3 separate regions of the Homo sapiens genome follow, and regions 1 and 2 are each linked to region 3. The links come from fine-mapping of genetic effects on gene expression. A gene starts in region 3. Each other region holds a variant in brackets. All regions are shown on one strand. Distances are between the middles of the regions.

Evidence for each region. PIP is the estimated chance that this variant, and not a neighbour inherited with it, causes the effect.
Region 1: its variant is fine-mapped to the expression of NCOA3 in Th2 cells (Schmiedel 2018, PIP 0.92).
Region 2: its variant is fine-mapped to the expression of NCOA3 in whole blood (INTERVAL, PIP 0.95).

Annotation. Positions count from the first base shown.
Region 1 is chr20:47,542,595-47,550,746 of GRCh38, forward strand. The region is part of intron 1 of NCOA3 (nuclear receptor coactivator 3); the gene reads left to right. Among named protein-coding and RNA genes, the nearest start is that of NCOA3, 45 kb to the left of the region's middle. The variant A/ATAT (reference allele first, on the strand shown) is at 4,810.
Region 2 is chr20:47,407,691-47,415,873 of GRCh38, forward strand. LINC01754 (long intergenic non-protein coding RNA 1754) reads right to left here and starts at 4,454. Exons shown (of 3, transcript NR_146496.1): 1 at 4,380-4,454. RefSeq lists enhancers at 2,718-2,907, 5,105-5,264, 6,998-7,047 and a silencer at 8,089-8,138. The variant C/A (reference allele first, on the strand shown) is at 4,321.
Region 3 is chr20:47,497,164-47,505,346 of GRCh38, forward strand. It overlaps NCOA3 (nuclear receptor coactivator 3), which reads left to right and starts at 4,724. Exons shown (of 23, transcript NM_181659.3): 1 at 4,724-4,856. RefSeq lists a cis regulatory region at 3,640-3,712 and a silencer at 4,964-5,083.

The DNA of each region.
Region 1 (8,152 bases), 45 kb after region 3:
TAAGCCTGGAAGTTTGAGGCTGCAGTGAGCTGTGATTGCACCTGTGAATAGGCAATTCCTAGGCAAGACCCTCTCTCTAAAAATTGGCCAGGCATGGTGGCTCATGCCTATAGTCCCAGCGCTTTGGGAAGCCCAGGCGGGTGGATCATTTGAGCCCCGGAGTTTGAGACCAGCCTGGGCAACATGGCGAAACCCCATCTATACAAACAATACAAAAATTATCCGGGCATGGTGGCACATACCTGTTGTCCCAGCTACTTGGGAGGCTGAGGCAGGAGGGAGGATGTCTTGAGCTGGGACGTGGAGGTTGCAGTTGGCTGAGAACACACCACTGTACTCCAGTCTGGGTGACAGCAAGACTCTGTTTCAAAACAAAGCAAAATAAACCTCCCAAACTCCTTAGTATTTATTATCTTCCACAGTTTCTGAAGGTTAGGACTCTGGGAGTAGCCTAGCTGGGGAGTTGTGGTTTTAGTACTCTTAATGGGTTGCAGTCATCTGAAGGTTTAACAAAGGCTGGAGGATTTGCTTCCGAGGTGGCTTACTCAGTGACCATTGGTGGGAGGTCTCAGTTTCTGCCTGAGTGTCCTAAAGCTACTGCCAGAGCTAGTGATCAGAGAGAAGGAGAAAAGGAGGAGGGAATTTGAAATGCCTTTGTGACCTCAGAAGTGACAGCTTGTCACTTTTCTTTTGGTCACATAGACCAACTTTGATACAGTATGGGAGGGGACTGCTTAAGTTCATGAATACCTAGAGATGGGTGTCACTGGGGATGTCATCTTGGTGCTGGCTACTACAGTGAGACTACTTCCCAGGGAGTGTGGTTTATCAGAAGACACATGACGTCTGTTTTTCTTTGAGTTGTTAATATTAGCAGATACTATAAAGAAAAACTTTTTCTTTCTTTCTTCTTCTTCTTTTTTTTTTTTCCTTTGGAGAGAGTCTTGCTCTGTTGCCCAGGCTGGAGTGCAATGGTGGGATCTCGGCTCACCGCAACCTCCACCTCCTGGGTTCAAGTGATTCTCCTGCCTCAGCCTCCCGAGTAGCTGGGACTACTGGTGCGCACCACCACGCCTGGCTCAGTTTTGTGCTTTTAGTGTAGACGGGGTTTCACCATGTTGGCCAGGCTGGTCTCGAATTCCTGACCTCAGGTGATCCACCTGCCTTGTCCTCCCAGGGAGCTGGGATTACAGGCGTGAGCCACTGTGCCCAGCCAAGAAAAGCTTTTTCTAATCAAGTATTTGGTCACCTGGTGTGGGTACAGTTTACATAGGAAAGATGTGATATATGTTAGACTCTATTTACTAGTATTTAAAATAACAAGTTGGTTTACTAGTATTCTCCTGTGGTAAAAAACATTTTTTTTCTCAAAGTTTAAAAAAAAACTATTTTGAAATAATTTTAGACTTTTGGGAATGTTGCAAAAATAGTAGAGTTTTCCTGTGTACTCCACCCCGATTCCCCCAATTTAATAACTTGCATAGCCATGTTATAGTGATCAAAACTAAGGCTAACACTGGTATAATACTGTTAACTAAGTAGCAGATATTGTCAAATTTCCACTCTTGTGTTTTTTTCTGTTCCAGGATCCAATCCTATTCTTTATTAATCTCTCCCTTTTGTTTTTTTGGGGTTTATTTTGTTCAAGTTTTTTTTTTTCAGTTAGGTGTAGGATGGATGTTCATGATAATGTATCTTTATTTGTCTTTTATTTAATACTACTTTTTTTTTTTTTTTTTTTTTCCCTTAAACGCAGGGTCTCACTGTCACCCAGGCTGGAATGCAGTTGTGCTGACATGGTTCACTGCAGCCTCAACCTCCTGGGTTTAAGCGGTCCTTCTGTGTAGCTGGGACCACAGGCATGTGTCAGCATGCCTGACTAATTGTTGTGGGTATTTAAAAAAATTTATGAAGTTTGTATTTTGTTTTAGATGTTGCCTTTATATTAAAATCCTTATGTAATAGACTTAGTGCCCCCCCAATTTTTTGGTTATTTTCTGTTGGTTTCTTACTTTGAATACTATTGAAATTACCTAGTAACTTCTTTTTCTTCCCAAGCATTTGATTTAAAGTAATATCTTTTTCTTTCAGTTGATATCAGGTAATCAGCCAGTTTTTTTTCCAGTTTTTATCTCTTCATACTTCAGTTTATGGATAGTTGTGCTCTAGCTACAATGTTGGAACATATAGTCATTATGTAGTATAAAGTGTCACTTAGAACCCTCATTCAGGTTTTTACAGATAAATATATATTTAATGCCCACTACCATTTTTATGTTGATATGGACTTTCCAGTTATTTGGGTCATCTGGAATTCATTTTCTCTAATAAATTCCTCAGGAAGAGCTTATGGGAACAGTATTCCTTGTGTTCCCCTATGTTTGAGAAGTTTGTCTGCAGCTTTAATAGTTAAAAGCTGGCTTGGTGATGATAAAATTCTGTTCCACAGTATCTGAAATATGTCATTCCACTGTCTTCTGGCACAGAGCATAGCTGTTACAGTATGATGATGTCGACCTGTTTTTCTTTGAGCAATGTAGCTTTTTTTTTTTTTTTGTAATTGTTTAGATATCCATAGGATTTTTTTTTTTTTTTTTTTTGAGAAAGAGTCTCACTTTGTTGCCCAGGCTAGAGTGCAGTGACAGGATCTCGGCTCACTGCAACCTCTGTCTTCCGGGTTCAAGGGATTCTCCTGCCTCAGCCTCCCTAGTAGCTGGAACTACAGGCATGTACTACCACGCCCAGCTAATTTTTGTATTTTTAGTAGAGATAGGGTTTTGCCATGTTGTCTAGGCTGATCTCGAATTCCTGACCTCAGGTGATCCACCTGCTTTGGCCTCCCAAAGTGCTGGGATTACTGGCGTGAGCCACTGCGCCTGGCCTTTGTAATCTTATTGGTGTTGGTTGGTCTGACACATTTTTCCTTGGGCATTCAGTGAGTCTTTTCAATATGTATTAATAGTTTCAAGCTTCCTTCCCCTCTTCTTTTTTTGTCTCTGTTTTTCTCAATATCATGAAGGTTTTCTTAGTGCTGTTTTTTTTTTATTTGCTTTTTGTTTTTTTTGTCTTACTGCCTTGGTTTTCTTCTTTGGGATTCCTACTATACATATATTGGATCATCTTTGTGATATATATATGGAGACACGGTCTCGGTCTGTCGCCTAGGCTGAAGTGCAGTGGTGTGATCATGGCTCATTGCAACCTCCACCTCCTGGGCTCAAGCGATCCTCCTGCCTCAGCATCCTGAATAGCTAGGACTATAGGGGCATGCCATCATGCCTGGTTAATTTTTGTATTTTTTATAGTGATGGGGTTTTGCCATGTTGCCCAGGCTGGTCTAGAACTCCTGAGCTCAAGTGATCCTCCCACCTCAACCTTCCAAAGTGTTGGGATTACAGGCATGAGCCACTGTGCCAGGCCTGTATATTGTTTATGTGAGATAAACCTCTCTTTTGTTTCCTCACTTGTATATCCAACTGTCCTCTGAACCTTTTCATTTAGATTTCTAATGGACAACTGAAACTCAACATGTCCCAAACCAATCTCATCATTTTCCCTGTAAGATCTTCACTAAAGCCTTTTCTTTCTCATTGTTGGTAATTCATTCTTGCTGTTGCTTAGGCTTAAAAACCTTGACTACTCTTTTATCTCCTTGCTATTTTTAAGATATATGTAGTGTCTGGCCACATCTCAGTAATTCCATTGAACCAACATTTTCTGTGAGTTATTGTAATAACATCCTAATAAGTCTTCCTGCATTTTACTCTTGTTTCCTTGTATCCTGTTAGTAACGTAACAGCTGGAGGGATCTTTTACAATCCTAAACCGGTTTGTCATTCCTCTCTTCTAGACTATGTAGAGGTTTCTTATTTCACCCGGAGTAGAAATGAAAGTTCTTACTTTGTTTCAATGAGACTCTGTGACTTGCCTCTGTTTTTTTTTTTTTTTTTTTTTAAGACCGAATTTCCCTCTTGTTGCCTAGGCTGAAGTGCAGTGGCGCAGTCTTGGCTCACTGCAACCTCCGCCTCCCGCATTCAAGTGATTCTTCTGCCTCAGCCTCTCGAGTTGCTGGGATTACAGGCATGTGCTACCACGCCCAGCTAATTTTGTATTTTTAGTAGAGATGGGGTTTCTCCATGTTGGTCAGGCTGGTCTTGAACTCCCTAACTCAGGTGATCTTCCCGCCCTGGCCTCCCAAAGTGCTGAGGTTACAGGCATGAGCCACCGCTACCGGCCTGCCTCTGTTACATCTCTGATCTCACCTATCATTCCTGTCTTCCTTGTTCATTCTTGATCCAGTACCGTTCTTCATCCAGTGCAGGCACATTCTTGCCTTTGGGTATGCCCTTTCTTGGAATGTTTCTGTCATATGTCTGATTAAGTTCCTCATCTCTTTAAAGTCTCAATTCTTACACTCTTAATGAGGCCCACCCTTACCACCCTATTTAATACCGGAACCTCTGACCTTATAGCACTAATGCTCTAATATATTAATACTTTACTTATTTATTGTGTTTAATTATAAAGCATATGCTCCACAAGAACAAGAATCCTAGTCCCCATTGCTCACTGACATATCTCAAACACTTAGGTAGGTGTCTGGCATATGGTAGATGTTCATCATTCATTTGTCGAGTGAATAAACACACTCTGTATTTCCTTGAAAGGGTGACGTCCTAAAGCCCTTCTCTTACCCCATCTGTGGCGTTAAGATGTTTTTCTGGGTCACAGCATATCGTTTCTCTTTAAACCCTGTGGTGGGAGTACTTTAGGAAAGTTCCTAGTTTTTGTTGATTTTATTTTATTTTT[A/ATAT]TATTATTATTATTATTATTATTATTTTAGACGGAGTCTCGCTCTGCCACCCAGGCTAGAGTGCAGTGGTGCGATCTCGGCTTACTGCAAGCTCCACCTCCCGGGTTCACACCATTCTCCTGCCTCAGCCTCCTGAGTAGCTGGGACTACAGGCGCCCATCACCATGCCCGACTAATTTTTTGTGTGTGTGTTTTTAGTAGAGACAGGGTTTCACCACATTAGCCAGGATAGTCTCGATCTCCTGACCTCGTGATCCACCCGCCTCGGCCTCCCAAAGTGCTGGGATTACAGGCATGAGCCACCGCGCCCGGCCCGTTTTGTTATTTTTTGAGATGGAGTGTCGCTCTGTCACCCAGACTGAAGTGCAGTGGCATGATCTCAGCTCACTGCAACCTCCACCTCCTGGGTTCAAGCGATTGTCGTGCCTTAGCCTCCCGAGTAGCTAGGATTACAGGCGCCTGCCACCACCCCCTGCTAATTATTTTATTTTATTTTATTTTTATTTTTAATAAAGATGGGGTTTACCAAGTTGGCCAGGCTGGTCTTGAACTCCTGACCTCAGGTTATCCACCTGCCTCGACCTCCCAAAGTGCTGGGATTATAGGTGTGAGCCACCATGCTCAGCCTTTGTTGGTTTTATTTTAGCTTCCCGTCTCTTTAGGCTGGAACTGTTTCTAGAAATCCATTTAAGATGGAAGTTGACTCTGAAATTGGTTAAATAAAGTTAGGGTGATTTGTTAATATAGAGGAATTGTGAGTTACCACCTGTCATATATATAAGAGAATTTCTTATTTGTTTTCTTACTCTCTAAGCCTAATAAAAAAAGGTTCCTTTAAAAAAAAAAAATTCATTCTAGGCCAGGTGCGGTGGCCCACACCTGTAATCCCAGCACTTTGGGAGGTTGAGGCAGGCAGATCACCTGAGGTCAGGAGTTCCAGACCAGCCAGCCCAACATGGCGAAACCCCGTCTCTACTAAAAATACAAAAAATTAGCTGGGCATGGTGGCAGGCGCCTGTAATCTCAGCTACTCGGGAGGCTGAGGCAGGAGAATCACTTGAACCTGGGAGGCAGAGGTTGGAGTGAGCTGAGATCATGCCACTGCACTCCAGCCTGGGTGGCAAGAGTGAAACTCCATCTCAAAAAATAAAATAAAATAAAAATAAAAATTAAAAAAAAATCTTTTTTACTGCATTTTCAGTGGCAGTTTGAGAAGAAGGGGTGGTACATGTCGATAGACATTAACATGCAATTGAGAAATGCTTTTAAAAAAGTGTGCATGTATATTATGCCTTCTCAATGTTTTTATTCTGTTTCAGCAAATCAGTAGAGTTGCAGTAATCTAGAAAGGATTAATTATGTCATGATGGTTTACTGTGTAGTCTCCCCAAGAAGGGCCACTCTGTTCTGCGTACTGCTGTTAGGCACAAGATGTGAAATAATATCTGTGAGGTCTTCATTTGGTGAATATGATAAAATCAATAGCATTTTAAAGGGTCTCCTAAAAATACCATTTAATGAATTTTAAAAATTAATAGTGAATTATTATTATTGAGAACATTTGTTAAATTAGTGTTTTCTTGGTTTGGATTGGATGTAATGCATAAACTTCAAAGATGTAAAAACTGTATTTAAAACATTTTTTAAATTTTTTGTAGAGATGGGGGTCTCACCACGTTGCCTAGGGTGGTCTCGAGCTCTTGGGCTCAAGTGATCCTCCCACCTCAGCCTCCAAAAGTGTTAGATTACAGTCCTGAGCCATCATGGACTTAACTATCCTTAATTTTGTATCACCTATGGAGAACATGTATTAACTTTGTAATAAAAAAGTTTTTAGGCCTGGTGCAGCAGCTCTTGCCTGTAATGCCAGCACATTGGGAGGCTGAGGTGAGAGGATCACTTAAGCCCAGGAGTTTGAGGCCAGCCTGGGCAACATGGCAAGACCCCAGATTGACAAAAAATTAAAAAAAAAAATTAGCTGGGCATGATGTGGTTAAAAAAAAATTTATCTGGGCACAGGATGACAGGTACCTGCGGTCCCAGCTACCCGGAAGGCTGAGACATGGCAATCACTTGAGACCAGGAGGTTGAGGCTACAGCAAACTATGATCTGTCTGCTGCACTCCATCCTGGGCAACAGAGCGAAGACTCTGTCTCAAAAAAAAAAAAAAAAAAAAAGTCTTCTGTATTTTGTATAAATTGGTGGTGGTTGGATCTAGAGGCTTGAGCACAGATGATTTAATGAGATCAGTTTCCAGGTTTGCAGATTCACAAACCTTTGTTCTCTTAAATTCTTCTTCTTTCTTCTCTTTTTTGGGGACAGAGTCTTCCTCTGTCACCAGGCTGGAGTGTAGTGGCACAATCAAGGCTTATTGCAGCCTCTACCTCCCAGGCTCAAGAAATCCTCCCACCTTAGCTTCTTAAATAGCTGGGACTACAGGCGCACGCCACCACCATGCCTGGCTAATTTTTGTAATTTTTTGTAGAGACATGATTTCACCATGTTGCTTAGGCTGGTCTCAAACTCCTGAGCTCAAGCAGTCTGCCTACCTGGGCCTCCCAGAGTGCTGGGATTACAGGCGTGAGCCACTGTGCTGGCTGTTCTTTTAACTTTTTAAGTTGGCCTGAGAAAGCTTGCAGAGCCTTATTCTCCAGATGTCTCTTTTTACAATTATTCTTCTAACTGCCAAAAGAAGTAAGAAGTCTCCCGTTTTACTGTGTTGTATTTCAATTTTTTTTTTTTTTTAAAAGGGTTTGAAGTCCAGGCGCGGTGGCTCACACCTGTAATCCCGGCACTTTGGGAGGCCGAGGTGGGCAAATGACCTGAGGTTGGGAGTTTGAGACCAACCTGACCAACATGGAGAAACCCCATCTCTACTAAAAATACAAAATTAGTCGGGCATGGAGGCACATGCCTGTAATCTCAGCTACTCGGGAGGCTGAGGCAGGAGAATTGCTTGAATCCGGGAGGCAGAGGTTGCTGTGAGCTGAGATCGTGCCATTGCACTCCAGCCTGGGCAACAAGAGCAAAACTCCGTCTCAGAAAAAAAAAAAAAAAAAAGGTGGGGGGGTTTGAAACACATGGGCAATTAGAAATACTGGTGTCAGAGTTTAACAAGTGAATGACTCTCAATGACTGATTAACAAACGACCTATTAGTTGGTTTCTAAGTGTGTTTTCATCAGAATTGAGGTGGAAGTTAATCAAATTGCTCTCTGAGAGATCATGAAAACATAATTTTTGATGGTAGTTCACTGAGACTCTTATCATGTAATTAAGATTATACTGAAAGAATTGAATGACATCGCTTTCACATAACTCCTTCCATGTATTTAATCTACTT
Region 2 (8,183 bases), 89 kb before region 3:
GGCAGGCGGATCACCTGAGGTTAGTCTGGCCAACATGGTGAAACCCCATCTCTACTAAAAATACAAAAATTAGCCAGGCATGGTGGTACGCGCCTGTAGTTCCAGCTACTCGGGAGGCTGAGGCAGGGAGAAACCCTTGAACCCGGGAGGCGGAGGTTGCAGTGAACGGAGATTGCACCACTCACTTCAGCCTGGGTGACAAAAAAAAGTCTCAAAAAAAAAAAAAAAGTAAAAAGATAAACAGAATTATAATTATAACAAAATTTATTGACTCATAGAATTGGAAATCCCAGGAGCCTCGTGAGCTTCAGGCACAGCCAGAATGATGGCCACAGGGTAAGTACTTGTTGATCTCCCCCTGGAGACCCTCATGTCCTCCATGTTGGCTTCTCAGGAGGAGAATCTCAGGCAATAGTGCCCCCTGTAGCTCCCCAACTTCAAAAACCAGAGTATAGAAAACTACATCTTACTGGCAGGTCTAGAAAAATGTCGCCAAACCTGGATCATGCATCCACCTTTTTTTGTTTGTTGGTTTTTGAGACAGTCTCGCTCTGTTGCCCAGGCTGGAGTGCAATGGCACGATCTCAGCTCACTGCAACCTCCACCTCCTGGGTTCAAGCGATTCTCCTGCCTCACCCTCCTGAATAGCTGGGATTACAGGTGTGCACCACCATGCCTGGCTAATTTTTGTATTTTTAGTAGAGACAGGGTTTCACTATGTTGGCCAGGCTGGTCTTGAACCCCTGACCTGGTGATTCACCTGCCTCGGCCTCCCAAAGTGCTGGGATCACAGGCATGAGCCACCGCACCTGGCCTATGCATCCACCTTTTGAAGGGAATGTTGAGGTCAGCCTTCTCTGAACACGTGGGGTGAGAGTGGATGGGCAGTGGCTTTCCAGTGGAGAGGAGGAAGTTGTTGCTTGAAGCAGGGAGGATTTTGAGCAGGCAAAACCAGCAGATGTTTACTACCTCAAGCTCCATGAGGCCAGGGAAGGTGCTGGGTCCTGAGCACCACTGTATGCCCAATGACTGGCACAAATTAGACTCAGAAAATACTTGTATGAACAAGGGCAATTGTGTTGTATGATTGGGTATCCATGGACAATTTACATATTTGAAAAGGTAACAGAAAGATTTGTAGGGCATGATGGCTCATGCCTGTAATCCCAGGACTTTGTGAGGCTGAGGTGGGAGGATTGCTTGAGCCCAGGAGTTCAAGACCGGCTTGGGTAGCACAACAAGATGCCATCTCTACAAAAAATTAGCTGGGTGTGGTGGCATGTACCTGTGGTCCCAGCTACGTGAGGGGCTGAGGCAGGAGGATTGCTTGAGCACAAGAGGTCAAGGCTGCAGTGTGCTATAATCCTACCACTGCACTCCAGCCTGGGCAACAGAGAAAGACCACATCTCAAAATAAAAAAACAAAATAAAGAAGGATAGACAAATAGGTTAGTGGAAGAGAATAGAAAGTCCAGCTAGCTGGGTGCGGTGGCTCACGCCTGTAATCCTAGCACTTTGGGAGGCCGAGGCGGGCGGATCACAAGGTCAGGAGATCGAGACCATCCTGGCTAACACCGTGAAACCCTGTCTCTACTAAAAAAATACAAAAAATTAGCCGGGCGTGGTGACGGGCGCCTGTAGTCCCATCTACTTGGGAGGCTGAGGCAGAAGAATGGTGTGAACCTGGGAGGTGGAGCTTGCAGTGAGTGGAGATGCGCCACTGCACTCCAGCCTGGGAGACAGATCAAGACTCCGTCTCAAAAAAAAAAAAAAAAGAAAGAAAAAGAAAGCCCAGCTGAGACTGACACATATATGGCCAAATTATCTTCAACAAAGTCACCAGGGTAATTCATTGAAGAAAATCAATTTTGTATTTCAACAAATATTACTGGGACAGGCCAGGTGCAGTGGCTCATGCCTATAATCCCAGCACTTTGGGAGGCTGAGGCAGAAGGATCACTTGAGGCCAGGAGTTTGAGCAGCCTGGGCAACAAAGGGAAACCTCGCCTCTGTCTAAATAAATAAATAAATAAAATTCACTGTTGAGAAAAAGAAAAGGCCACTGAATTGTATACTTTATTTCATTTTATTTATTTATTTTTGAGACTGAGTCTCGCTCTGTCACCCAGGCTAGAGTGCAGTCTCATGATCTCAGCTCACTGCAACCTCCGCCTCCCTTCAAGCGATTCTCCTGCCTCAGCCTACTGAGTAGCTGGAATTACAGACATGCACCACCATGCCCAGCTAATTTTTGTTATTTTTAGTAGAGATGGGGTTTCACCATGTTGGTCAGGCTGGTCTCCTGACCTCGTGATCTGCCCACCTTGGCCTCCCAAAGTGCTGGGATTACAGGTGTGAGCCACTGTGCCCGGCCTGAATTGTATACTTTCAAATGGTTTGGCCGGGTGCTGTGGCTCAACGCCTGTAATCCCAGCACTTTGGGAGGCTGAGGCAGGTGGATCATTTGAGGTCAGGAGTTTGAGACCAGCCTGACTAACATGGTGAAACCCCATCTCTACTAAAAATACAAAAAAAAAAAAGAAGATAAAGAAAGAAAGAAAAAGAAAGTAGCTGGGTGTGGTGGCATAGTCCCAGCTACTTGGTGGCTGAGATGGGATAATCACTTGAACCCGGGAGGTGGAAGCTGCAGTGAGCCGGGATTGTGCCACTGCACTCCAGCCTGGGCAACAAGAGTGAAACTCCGTCTCCCCACCAAAAAAACCCCAAAAAACATTATATCTTCCTGGCTAAGTGATTGGCTTATGGTAACTCAGACTGAGCCAACGAAGCCCTCCTCAGTTTGTTCTTGGAACTATTGTCAGGGGTATTTTCCCTTTCCATTGGTGTTGCTGTGCTGGTGAGAAATAACCCCAGAACCAGCAGGTAGGCAAAGCTACAGGAGAGGAAAGCCAACTTGGAGAAGAACCGAGAGATGATAGAGAAATGGAAACCAGCCATGTTGAGCCCCTGGGTTCAGGTTCACCTGATGTCCTCCAAACTTTTTGTTCAGGCTAGTTTAGGATGTGCCTATATTTCTTGCAAATGAGTCTCCAAATACAAACCCCAAATCATTGTAGCAAAATGCACTGACCAACTGTGCTTCCACGATCAGATCAGTAAGCTGGGTGCAGTGGCTCATGCCTGTAATCCCAGCACTTTGGGAGGCCAAGGTGGGCGGATCACTTGAGGTCAGGAGTTGGAGAACAGCCTGGCCAACATGGTGAAACCCCATCTCTACTAAAAATACAAAAATTGGCCAGGTGTAGTGGCAGGCACCTGTAATCCCAGCTACTTGAGAGGCTGAGGCAGAAGAATCACTTGAACCTCGGAGGCAGAGGTTGCAGTGAGCTGATATCATGCCACTGCACTTCAGCCTGGGCGACAGAGCAAGACTCCGTCCCAAAACAAACAAACAAACAAACAAACAAACAAACAAAAACCAATGTGTAAGTGAACAGAGAGAACAAGAAGTTTAAGGAAAATTAAAAACATAAAGGACAAAGTGAGAGAAGAGAATATCTGTAAAATACATGAATACACACACACAGTAGATGTTTCATGGTTGTTTATCCCCCACCTCTCGCTGGAACACAGACTGGTGCCCCACTTCGTGCTTGGGATGTCCTTCCTCTGTTTCTTGGCTGAGTCGAACTTGTGCTGCTTCCTTTCTCCTTAAATATCCTTTCCTCTGGACAGGATGTTCCTGAAGGAGGCCACAAGGCAGAACATCTCGGCTAACTTTAGTTTGCTATTTTCAGCCTGAATTTGTGCCTGGGCAAATCAGTCCACGGACAGAGTATCCTCCCCAGTTGGATATTTCTTGCATGAGCATCAGAATTTTGTGGGACACAAGGCTTAGTTTCACTAAGCTCTGAGCCTCAAAACCTGGTATGCATCTGGGTTAGAGAGCCTCATCCAGTCTTTTTTTTTTTTTTTTTTTTTTGAGATGGAGTCTCACTCTGTCGCCCAGGCTGGAGTGCAGTGGCGTGATCTCAGCTCACTGCAAGCTCTGCCTCCCGGGTTCATGCCATTCTCTTGCCTCAACCTCCCGAGTAGCTAGGACTACAGGCACCCACCACCACACCCGGCTAATTTTTTGTATTTTTTTTTAGTAGAGACGGGGTTTCACCGTGTTAGCCAGGATGGTCTTGATCTCCTGACCTTGTGATCCGCCCGCCTCGGCCTCCCAAAGTGCTGGGATTACAGGCGTGAGCCACCGCGCCTGGCCCTCATCCAGTCTTAAAAAAAAATTCCCTGAGCTGTAGAATATATGGTGGACATATTTTCTGCATTCCTTTTTTGATGTAGGTAGGAAAAAAA[C/A]CCAAAAAACCCCAAATCACAATTGTCCCTCCAGGGAACTGAGAAGCTGGGGTACTTACCCATTGACTCCTGTATTCCATTGGTTAAGAAAAGCTTCTGGTGGCTTTAAGTCCCTAACACTTTTTTGGGGCTGTCTTGCATCCTGTGCTGGAGACAGCTCTTAGGTTAAGAGACACAGGTGTTCAGCCTGGGCAACATAAGGCGACACTGTCTCTGCCAAAAAATAAAAAAAATAAAAAAATAAAAGCCAGGGGGTGGTGCGTGCACCTGTGGTCCCAGCAACTCAGGAGGCTGAAGTGAGAAAATTGCTCGAGTCTAGGAGGTTGAGGCTGCAGTGAGCTGTGATCATGCCACTGCCAGCAGCCTGGGCAACAGAGCAAGACTTTGCCTCAAGAGAAAAGAAAAACAGTCAGATGCGGTGGCTCATGCCTGTAAACCCAGCACTTTGGGAGGCTGAGGCAAGTGGATTACTTGAGGTCAGGAGTTCAAGACCAGGCTGGCCAACATGGCAAAACCCCATCTCTACTAAAAATACAAAAATTAGCTGGGCGTGGTGGCTTGCACCTGTAATCTCAGCTACTTGGGAGGCTGAGTTAGGAGAATCACTTGAACCTGGGAGGTGGAGGTGTCAGTGAGCCGAGATCACCCCACTGCCCTCCAGCCTATGCAACAGAATGAGACTCCATCTCAAAATAATAAAAAAGAGACTAGTGTGGGAGGATCACCTGAGCCCAGGAGGCGGAAGTTGCAGTGAGCTGAGATCACGCCACTACAGTTTAGCTTGGGTGACAGAGTGAGACTCTCTCAAAAAAGAAGAAGAAGAAGAAGAGAAACAGATGTGTGTGTGAGGTGGGAGCTGCCAGCCTGTCCATCATAGTTGTAGCTAATCTCAGAAGCAGGCCAAGGGGATTTGCTATAGGGCACCAGCAGTATATGCTAGAAAGAGAATGTAGTACATGTACTGGCTTGTAGCACAGGGGACATTCTAGTTTTAGGCAATGCTGAATCAAGGGCCTCAAATAATGTCAACAGGACTTGAACTTTCACCATCTTTTAGTTCCTTACACCTTATATCCTCTATTAGTGGCTTCTCACAACTGTGGGCTTAATCCTACCAGTCCAGGAGCCCCAGTAGAACAGAGCATCCTTTCTAACACCTGAGCTGACTTTCATGGTCTTGCTTGAGTTCTGTGCCCAGTCCTGCTCTACGGCCAGGAAGCTGTGGCCCTCTGATTGACCAGATCTGAGCTAAACGCAGTGGTGTGTTGATAAATGTCTAACAATAGTCTTTTTGAGAAAATAAAAGTTTTGATTTGTAGTGTTTCCTGATTTCTATGATGTAAGTACCCCCATTAGCTTGAAACCATAGCCGATTTCAATTACCAATGTAGTGTCAACCGGTTTACAGAACTCTTGTCATGTCCCATCAGCTCTAGTGAGCTAGTTCGAGCCAGCTCAAACACAATGCTGGCTCATGTGTCTCCTGTTGAACAGAGGCAGTTGAGGCACCCCATGCATTCCACAGGGACTGAAGGTGGGGAAGGGAAATCGGGTGCTGTTGTCACGATTTGGGGGGCGAATAGTTGCTGAATGGGAAAAACCAGGTCTCCATCAATCATACAGACAGACAGAGATCCTGTCTCCAAAAAAAAAAAAACAAACCCAAAAAACTGCAACAAACATCTTGGTAAATATATCCTTATAATATAAAATTATATATCCTTTGTTTGTTTGTTTGCTTGTTTGTTTTGAGACAGGGTTCTCGCTCTGTCACTCAGGCTGGAGTGCAGTGGTGTAAACTCAGCTCACTGCAACCTCTACCTTCCCGGCCTCTACCTCCCTCACTATAACCTCAACCTCACACCTCAGCCTCCTGAGTAGTTGGTAACATAGGCATACACCACCATGCCTGGCTAATTTTTTGTATTTTTGGTAGAGAGAGGGTTTCACCATGTTGCCCAAGCTGGTCTCGAACTCCTGAGTTCAAGCGATCCACCACCTTGGACTCCCAAAGTGCTGGGATTATAGGTGTGAGCCACCATGCCCGGCCACCTTATATATCCTTATATGTTGTCTTTTCTATAACACTGGTCAGCAAACCAAGGCCCACAGAAAACCAAACCCAGTCTGGCACCTGTTTTTGTTTTTGTTTGTTTGTTTGTTTGTTTGTTTGTTTATTTATTTATTTATTTATTTATTTTAGATGGAGTCTCCCTCTGTTGCCCAGGCTTGAGTGCAGTGGTGTGATCTTGGCTCACTGCAACCTCTGCCTCCCAGGTTCAAGTGATTCTCCTGTCTCGGCCTCTCGAGTAGCTGGGACTACAGGCACGCCCCACCATGCCCGGCTAATTTTTATATTTTTAGTAGAGACGGGGTTTTACCATGTTGCCTAGGCTGGTCTTGAACTCCTGACCTCAGATGATCCACCCGCCTCGGCCTCCCAAAGTGCTGGGATTACGGGCATGAACCACCTTGCCTGGCCTGGCACCTGTTTTGTAAACAAAGTTTTGCAGGAACACAGCAAACTCATTCATTTACATAATGTCTGTAGCTGCTTTTGCAGTACCCCAGCTGAATGGAGTCATTCAGAGACTGCATGGCCCAGAAAGCCTAAAATATTTACTCTCTGGCACCCTTTACAGAGAAAGTTTGTTAACCTCTGCTCTATAATATAGGACCTACATTATGGAAAGGGAAAAAGATATATGTTTTAAAAAATTTAACAGACAGCCGGATACAGTGGCTCACATCTGTAATCCCAGCACTTTGGGAGGCCAAGGCGGGTGGATCACCTGAGGTCAGGAGTTCAAGACCAGCCTGACCAACATGGCGAAACCCCGTCTCTAATAAAAATACAAAAATTAGCAACGCATGGTGGCACACACTTACAATCTCAGCTTCTCAGGAGGCTGAGGCAGGAGAATAGCTTGAACCTGGGAGGTGGAGCTTGCAGCGAGCCAAGATCACACCACTGCACTTCAGCCTGGGTGACAGAGCAAAACTTTGTCTCAAAAAAAAAAAAAAAAGAAGTGTACAAAGAAGAAAGCCCACTCTTCTATCGCAATTACCAGTTTGGTGTAATAGTCCAATCAACACAATAATCAATACACACACACACAGTTTTGTCCTTTCTTAAAACAAAAACAAAAACAAAAACAAAAAAACAGGAATGGATCAGTAATTTCCTGTAGCTATTATCCCCGAAATACTTTTGTATTATTCTGCCCGTTTTCTGATAGCTCATAATCAAAGAAAGATCACTGCAGGTGTTTGGACACAAAAATCCTAGCAGCTGGTGCCCCTCGCAGCAGAATTTCAACCTGACACACTGGGAGCCAGAATGTTTGTTGGCTCTGATAAGCTAATAACCACATGTTTCAATGTCCCGTGTCCCTGAAGAAGCCATTTTCATGTGACTTTCCTGCTTCAGACCAGGCCCAGTTCACTGAGTTAAAAACCAAAATGCTCATCGTGGCCTACAAGTTCCTCCGTGACCTGGCCTGTAGCCAGTTTTCTGGTACCGCTCTTCCCCTTGGTCTCTGTGCCTTCTTTCACTTCCTCCAAGTTGCACCAAGCCCTTTCCGGCCTCGGACTGGGTTAGTCAGAACTCTTTCAGTTTCAAGTGACAGAAACCCAACTCGAACTGGACTAAGCCTTTAGAGTGTATTAGGCTCATACAACCGAAAAGTCCCAAGAAGGCCGGGCGTGGTGGCTCACGCCTGTAATCCCAGCACTTTGGGAGGCTGAGGTGGGCGGATCACCTGAGGTCAGGTTCGAGACCAGCCTGGCTAACATGGTGAAACCCCCGTCTCTACTAAAAATACAAAAATTAGCCAGGCATGGTGGTGTGCGTCTGTAATCCC
Region 3 (8,183 bases):
TGTGGCTTAGGCTTCCCATAATCTGGCAGCTGGGTTCCATGAGGAAGAAAGTGTAAGCTGCCAATCATCTTTATTTTATTTTATTTTATTTTATTTTATTTTATTGAGACAGAATCTCACTCTGTCGCCTGGGCTGGAGTGCAGTGGCACAATCTTGGCTCACTGCAACCTCCGCCTCCCAGGTTCAAGCGATTCTCCTTCCTCAGCCTCCAGAGTAGCTGGGTTTACAGGCATGTGCCACGGCGCCTGGCTAATTTTTGTACTTTTAGTAGAGACGCGGTTTCACCATGTTGGCCAGGCTGGTCTCGAACTCCTGACCTCAGGTGATCCACCTGCCTCAGCCTCCCAAAGTGCTGGGATTACAGGCATGAGCCACCCCAATCATCTTAAAGCCTAGACTTGAAAGTCCCATGACATCACTTCCACTATTTCCATTGGTCAAACAGTTACAGAGTCAACTCCAGTTCAAGGAAGAGGAAATAAAGCCTACCTTTCGATGTAGGAGTGGCCTGTGCAAACAGCAGGAAAGAATGATAGTGGGCACCTACACAGACTATCTTGTAGAGTGTGTCACTCATTTGGCTTAGATTTTGAGTCTAGAGCAGTGTTTCCACATGTCACTCACTACAAGATCACCTACAGGTTCCATCAAACTCTGCCAATGTTTGCCAGGCGCAGTGGCACACGCCTGTAAATCCCAGCATGTTGAGAGGCCAAGGAGGTTGGATTACTTGAGGTCAGGAATACAAGACCAGCTTGGCCAACATGGTAACACCCCATCTCTACTAAAAATACAAAAATTAGCCAAGTGTGGTGGCACGTGCCTGTAATCCCAGCTACTCGGGAGGCTGAGGCAGAGGAAGCCCTTGAACTCAGGAGGCGGAGATTGCAGTGAGCTGAGATCACACCACTACACCCCAGCCGGGGCAACAGAGCAAGGCTCTGTCTCAAAAAAATTCAGCTGAGCCAGAAGTTTGAGGTTACAGTGAGCCATGATTGTGCCACTGCATTTCAACATGGAGAAACCCCGTCCCTACTAAAAATGCAAAAAATTAGCTGGGCATGGTGGCATGTGCCTGTAATCCCAGCTACTCAGGAGGCTGAGGCAGGAGAATCACTTGAACCCGGGAGTCGGAGGTTGTGGTGAGCCGAGATCACGCCATTGCACTCCAGTCTGGGCAACAAGAGTGAAACTCCATCTAAAAAAAAAAAATTTCTAAAAAAATTCAGATGGTGTATGGTATGAATCATTGTGAAGACAAAGCAGGGTGATATGACTGTGTTTGTGCCTGTGTGTGTGTTTAGTGCTTTAGAAGTTCTATCCGAGAAGGAGACATTGCAGCAGAGACTTGAATGGCAATAGAGAGCAAGCCAGGAGGAAAGAAAATTCTAGGCAAAAGGAACAACAGGTGCACAGGTCCTGAGGCAGGAATATGCTTGGTGTGTTCAGGAATGTTAGTGTGACATGGGGTGAGATATAGGGAGAGATATATCACCTGAGATCAGGGAGGGGAGCAGAGACCAAATCAATTAGGGTCAGAGTAGTTTGTTTTCTTAAATGGAGTCAGGGTCTCCCTCTGTCACCCAGGTTGGAGTGCACTGGCACAATTACGGCTCACTGCAGCCTCGAACTTCCGGGCTCAAGCAATCCTCTCACCTCAGCTTTCTGAGTAGCTAGGACTAGAAGCGTGGGCCACCACACCCAACTAGGGTCTGAGTTTTATCCCAAATGCAATGGGATGCCATTCGAAGCTGTTTAGGTTGGAAGTTTTTTGTTTTGTTTTGTTTTGTTTTGTTTTTGAGATGGAGTTACGCTCTTGTTGCCCTGGCTGGAGTGCAGTGGCATGATCTTGGCTTACTGCAACCTCTGCCTCCTGGGTTCAAGAGATTCTCCTGCTTCAGCCTCCCAAGTTGCTAGGACTACAGGTGTGTGCCACCATGCCCAGCTAATTTTGTATTTTTAGTAGAGACAGGGTTTCACTATATTGGTCAGGCTGGCCTCAAAACCCTGACCTCAAGTGATCTGCCTGCTTTGCCCTCCCAAAGTGCTGGAATTACAGGCGTGAGCCACCGTACCCGGCCTAGGTTGGAAGTAACATGATTTAATACATGATTTTTCAAGGATCCCTCTGGCTACTGTATTGGGAGTGCCCTGTAGAGGATGAAAGGGAGAGAAGCAAGGAGAGTAGCTAGGAGACAGGTGCAGTTGCTGAGGTGAAAGGCCATACACGTGTGAGCATTTCATCTCTGGGTTCTCAGCATCTAACGCAGTATTTTATTTTATTATTTTTATTTTATATATATATATATTTGAAATGGAGTCTCACTCTGTCGCCCAGGCTGGAGTGCAGTGGTGCAAGCATGGCTCACTGCAGCCTTGACCTCCCCTACTCAGGCAATCCTCCCACCTCAGCCTCCTGAGTACTTGGGAATACAAGCAGGCGCCACCACACCAAGCTAATTTTAAAATTTTTTGTAGAGACTGGGTATCTGCTTTGTTGCCAAGGCTGGTCTTGAACTCCTGGGCTCAAGCAATCTCTCGGCCTTCCAAAGTGTTGGGATTACAGGCCTGAGCCACTGTGCCCTGGTGGAAATATATATATATATATTTTTTTGAGACAGAGTTTCGCTCTTGTGGCCCAGGCTGGAGTGCAGTGGCGCGATCTCGGCTCACTGCAACCTCTGCCTCCCGGGTTCAAGTGATTCTCCTGCCTCAGCCTCCCGAGTAGCCAGGATTATAGGCGCCTGCCACCATGCCCAGCTAATCTTTTGTATTTTTAGTAGAGACGGGGTTTCGCCATGTTGGGCAGGCTGGTCTGGAACTTCTGACCTCAGGTGATCTGCCCACCTTGGCCTCCCAAAGTGTTGGGATTACAGGTGTGAGCCACCGTGCCCGGCCCAGAAATGAGATATTTAATTTTTTAATTTTTACTTTTTTTTTTTTTGAGACGGAGTTTCACTCTTGTTGCCCAGGTTGGAGTGCAATGGTGCCATCTCGGCTCACCGCAACCTCTGCCCCCAGGTTCAAGTGATTCTCCTGCCTCAGCCTCCTGAGTAGCTCGGATTACAGGCATGTGCTACCATGCCCAGCTAATTATGTATTTTTAGTAGTGACGGGGTTTCTCCATATTGGTCAGGCTGGTCTTGAACTCCCGACCTCAGGTGATCTGCCTGCCTTGGCCTCCCAAAGTGCTGGGATTACATTCGTGAGTCACCGCGCCCAGCCAAAATGAGATATTTTAAATAACATAAGTAAACAGAAATATATCATGATTTTAATGATAATTCATGCTCTGAAAATAAATGAAGAAAGGAATAGGAGTAGGGAAAGCTGGGATCAGAGTGGGCAGGAAGTTAAAATAGAGCAGTTAGGGAAAGCCTCACTGAATAAGTGACATTTGGACAATGACCATGGGGAGATTAGGGAATGGGTTATTTGAATTTTCTGGGAAAATACTGTTCTAGGCAGAGGAAATAGCAAGTGCACGATCTTTAAGGCCAGAGTGTGCTAAGCACGTTGGAGAGGCCGAGTCCATTGTAGCTGAGTTACAGAAGTGAGTGGAAGAGAAGAAGGTGATGAGTTTAGAGAGGGAAGGGCAGGGCAAGAGACGGGCTGTATGGGGCTTTGCAGGTTACTGCAAGAATTTTGCAGGAGGGACAGAGACTGACTTGGTTCTTACCAGGATTCCTCTGGCTGCTGTGTTGAGTATAGACTCTAAGAGGAAAGAGTGGAAGCAGGCAGAACACTGAGGAGGCTGTTGCAGTGGTCCAGGTGGGAAATGATGGTGCTGACCGTGGAGGTGGTAAGTGGTCAGATTATTCTATTTTATTTACACTCAACACATCTAATACTGACTCAATATTATCTAACATACAGTCCACATTGAAATTGCCCCCCAAATTCTTTTTACATAAAAAAATCATCCTGAATCCAATCAAGTCTCACCTATTGCTTTTGGTTTTCACCTCTTTCATGCTGTCATATTTTAAAAGACTCCAGGCTAGATGTTGTGTAGAATGTCCCACATTCTGAATTCGTTTATTTTTTCAAGTAAGCTTTTTGTGTGTATGTGGCAAGAATACGACAGAGGTAGCAATATGCTTTCCCCACTGCATCATATTAGGAGACACATAACAACAGTCCTGACCCATTATTGGTGGTGCTAAGTTCGATCACTTGGTAAGGGGGTGCCTGCCAGATCTTTCCATTGTAAAGCAAGCTGTTCTTTATTGTAAGTCATAAATACGCTGTGGGATGATACTTCGGGACTAAATATACCCTGAATATACTGCTGCCCAACAACATTTCACCCAGTGACTTTAGCAGCTAAGGAACAGCCTCGTGGCTTCCGACCTTGTGCCTCAGTTCGCTCATCTGAAAAATGAGGATGATCATGGTCCCTACCGGATGCTTGTTTTGAGGATCCGTGCTTGGCATACCAGAAACGCTCCACAAATGTTAGGTATTACTGGACGAAGGCAAATATGAAAAAAATTAAGGGCAGGGCTAGGACTGCATTCCGGTTCTCCGGATCCCGAGGGAGCTCCCAGTCGATGCTGGGCGAAAGCGGCCGCACGAGCCCACGTCGCCACGCCCTCCGCCGCGGAAGCCAGGGTGGGGGTCGCTGGAACCCTAGGCCGGCCGCGCAAGGCCCCCTGGGACCGGTAGTGCTGGGCGTGGCCTCGGGACTACATATCCCAGTGGCCCCCGTGCGGCGACTTTAGCTGCTGCTGTCTCAGCCGCTCCACAGCGACGGCAGCGGCTGCGGCTTAGTCGGTGGCGGCCGGCGGCGGCTGCGGGCTGAGCGGCGAGTTTCCGATTTAAAGCTGAGCTGCGAGGAAAATGGCGGCGGGAGGTGAGTGGAGATAAAGGAGGAGGCGGTGGCGGGCGAGGGGGTGGAGTGCGAGGCGGAGGGAAGAGGGGCGAGTTCCCCAGGCTGCGAGAGCCAGCGGCTTCAGATCTGCCAAGGCACTGAGGGGCGCGCCGGCCGGGGGACGCGCTGAGGTAGTTTCGGGGTGTCGGGGCCGCGCCGCTTCCCCTCAGCCCGGGGGGCGGCCCGCGGCGGTAGGAGCTGAGACGAAGCTGGGTGGCAGTCCGCTTGGGGATCCGAGGGGGTCCCCGCGCGGAGGGGTCACCCGAGGAGTTTGCGGGGGGACTGCAGGGGCCCACTTTCCCCTTCTGTCCCTAAAGTTTTTTCTTCCTCTTGCCTCCCCCAGCCCTTTTGAAAGCTCCCCGCGTCGTCCTCCTGCTGCCCCGGCTCCTTAGCAGCTTCTGGGACGCACGGGAGGGAAAAGCCGCGGGGACCCCCCCCACCCCAGCCTCCCAGCCGGGTGAGATTTGGTTGCTGTGTTTCCTCCTCACTTGGGCATTTAAAAAATATTTTAACACGAATTGTCCGCGGAATTTTCATGTTGGGCTCGGGTAGCTTCTTAGTTTTCTCGGTAAAAAGGCGTTTTACTACCTCTGGTGTGAAGGCTGGGAAATGGCAAGTGGGAAGTTGGTTGATAAAATTAGGAGTTTGGCTGTCTTTATTACTACTTTTTTTTTTTTTTTGCTCTCCCCATCTCTCATTTTATGAACATCGACCCAGTTCGTCATGGTTTAAATAAACTGCTTGTCTTGTACCTGCCTTAACAAAACTAGCCATGGGTCGTTGGGAGACTTAGTTGCTTCCTAGGCAGTTTGAGGGCATCTAGGGTGGAAAAGTTAACCGAGAGAGCGAGCATCTACCTCACTGGCAGGATCTGGGATTCCCAAATGGAATGACACGGAAGCTATGAGATTCTCTCGAAGTCGAAACTTTTTTCCCCCTCCCGAATGCGAAGACTTCCTTTTTGCAATATTTGAGCAGGGCTTCAAAACCAACCTGTTTTTGTTATTAAGCCTGTACGGTAAAGAAACAGGAAGGAGAGTACCAGCTGTCTTGCTGCAGTGGTTTTAAATGGAGTTGAATGAGATGCGTGAGAGTGGTAGTAGTATTGAGTAAGATTGCTGCATCTCTTTGATTTAAATGCCTGGCCTCGGATCCACCTAACTGATCCCTGGCTGCAAAAAAGCTTCAGTATTTGTTGCAGCAGGTTGTTGAGAAGGTGATTGGAGGAATAAAAATCTTAGGTCTTCAGCGAATGCTGCACAAACGAAAATGTTAATGGAAACCTGTAAGTTTGTGAATTGTTTGTTCTTGAAAATATTTTAAATGTATGCTCATTTAGAATATGGTTCTACCGAATGATATCCAATTGGAAAGGTACAAACACATTGAAAAGTGAATCTCTCTTTCACGCCAAACCCTACAGTTTCCCCTTCTCAGAGGCAAAGACTGTTACTGGTTTTTAGAATATCCTTGGTCTTTGGAATAATTATTTTAAGATTTTCATTTGAAACCACTTCTGTTGGATACCAAAAGCAGGGAAATAAAATGAACAGAAGAAACAGAAAATGTGGGAATACTGTTTTTGCTCTCTTAAAAAAAATGTTGATAGCTATTGGAAAAAGCTCTTCAGAACTTACTGCTTATGTCACCTTATCTATTAATACCGTTAAATAACAATCTGTGGGGCTTTAGGATAAAGAACTCTGCCAGGGTTCATTGTTTGTATGTACAATGAATCCTCTGCTTGTAACATGTAAAATGATATTGAACACTATAGCTCCTGTCACTAGAGGTTGCTTCAGGTTCTGCATTTCAATGAGCAGAAATCTAAATTGCCTGTGATCCTAAATTATAGGGGCATTTTATGTATAGATGGAAATGACTTAATTGTCCAATCAGCATTTGAAATAAGAGGCATATACCAGCTTTTGGCATATAGAAGATGGGGATTGTGGACTAAGCGGGAGGCTGTAATATTTCTAGAGCAGTTATAGGAAATATTTCTGCCATAAGATATTTAATTACAAAGGCTTTGAAAATGTACAACTTAAGCATCAATAGCGAGATTTATATTTTTATATTTTAGAATGGTTGTTTTAACAGCTTGCCAACACTAACAATTTGCTAAGGAAATTCAGTGATATTAGAGCTAGGTTATTAAAGATTATATTAAATAATTTAACTGTATTTTGAAAATGATTATGCTGTGCATTTCCTTCTCTGTATAAAAATTATTTCTAAAAAGTGCCACGCACCTCCCGAGCAAATAAAATAGAATTCAGTAAGGAGTGAAGTACTGTTGTACGTGAGACCCTTTTTCTAGGCGATATGCAAATAAAAAGTAGTTTAAAAATGGTTGCTTACTAATGTCTTCTTGACTGGTCTTTTGAAATAAGCTTTCTTGCAGGGACATTACATTAAAGATAAAAGCTAAGTGTGTCTTTTTTTTTTTTTTTTTTTTTTTTTAACGAATTCAGTTCTTTCTGCCGGGCTGCAGTGGCTCAGGCCTGTAATCCCAGCACTTTGGGAAGCCAAGGCTGGTGGATCACGAGGTCAGGAGTTTGAGAACAGCCTGGCAAAGATGGTGAAACCCCTTCACTACTAAAAATACAAAAAATTAGCCGGGCGTGGTGGCGAGCACCTGTAGTTCCAGCTACTCAGGAGGTTGAGGCAGAAGAATGGCTTGAACCCGGGAGGCGGAGGTTGCAGTGAGCCGAGATTGCACCACTGCACTCCAGCCTGGGCAACAGAATGAGACTCTGTTTCAAAAAAAAAAAAAATTCTGTCTTGTGCATTAGCAGTATGATTCTGGAATAATTCATTTTAACTTGGAGTACTGTAATTGAAAAGTCTTTAAAAGAAAATTAAAAAATAAATTTTAGTTTGGACAATAGGGTAAGATTTAAAAACTCTGCTATTGTCCTATCCCAAATTGATGGTTAAAATAAATGGCTTTGGGTTTTTGGTTTTTTTTTTTTTTTTTTTTTTTTTTGCGGGCAGGGGCGTTTTTTTTTTTTCTTTTCTTTCTTTTTTTTTTTTTTTGAGAAGGAAATTTGCTCTGTTGCCCAGGCTGGAGTGCAGCGGCGCGATCTTGGCTCACTGCAACCTCTGCCTCCTGGGTTCAAGCAATTCTCCTGTGTCAGCCTCCCAAGTAGCTGGGATTACAGGTGCGCACCACCACGCCCGGCTATTTTTGTATTTTTAGTAGAGACAAAGTTTACCATGTTGGCCAGGCTGGTCTCGAACTCCCAACCTCAGGTAATCCACCTGCCTTGGCCTCCCAAAGTGCTGGGATTACAGGTGTGAGCC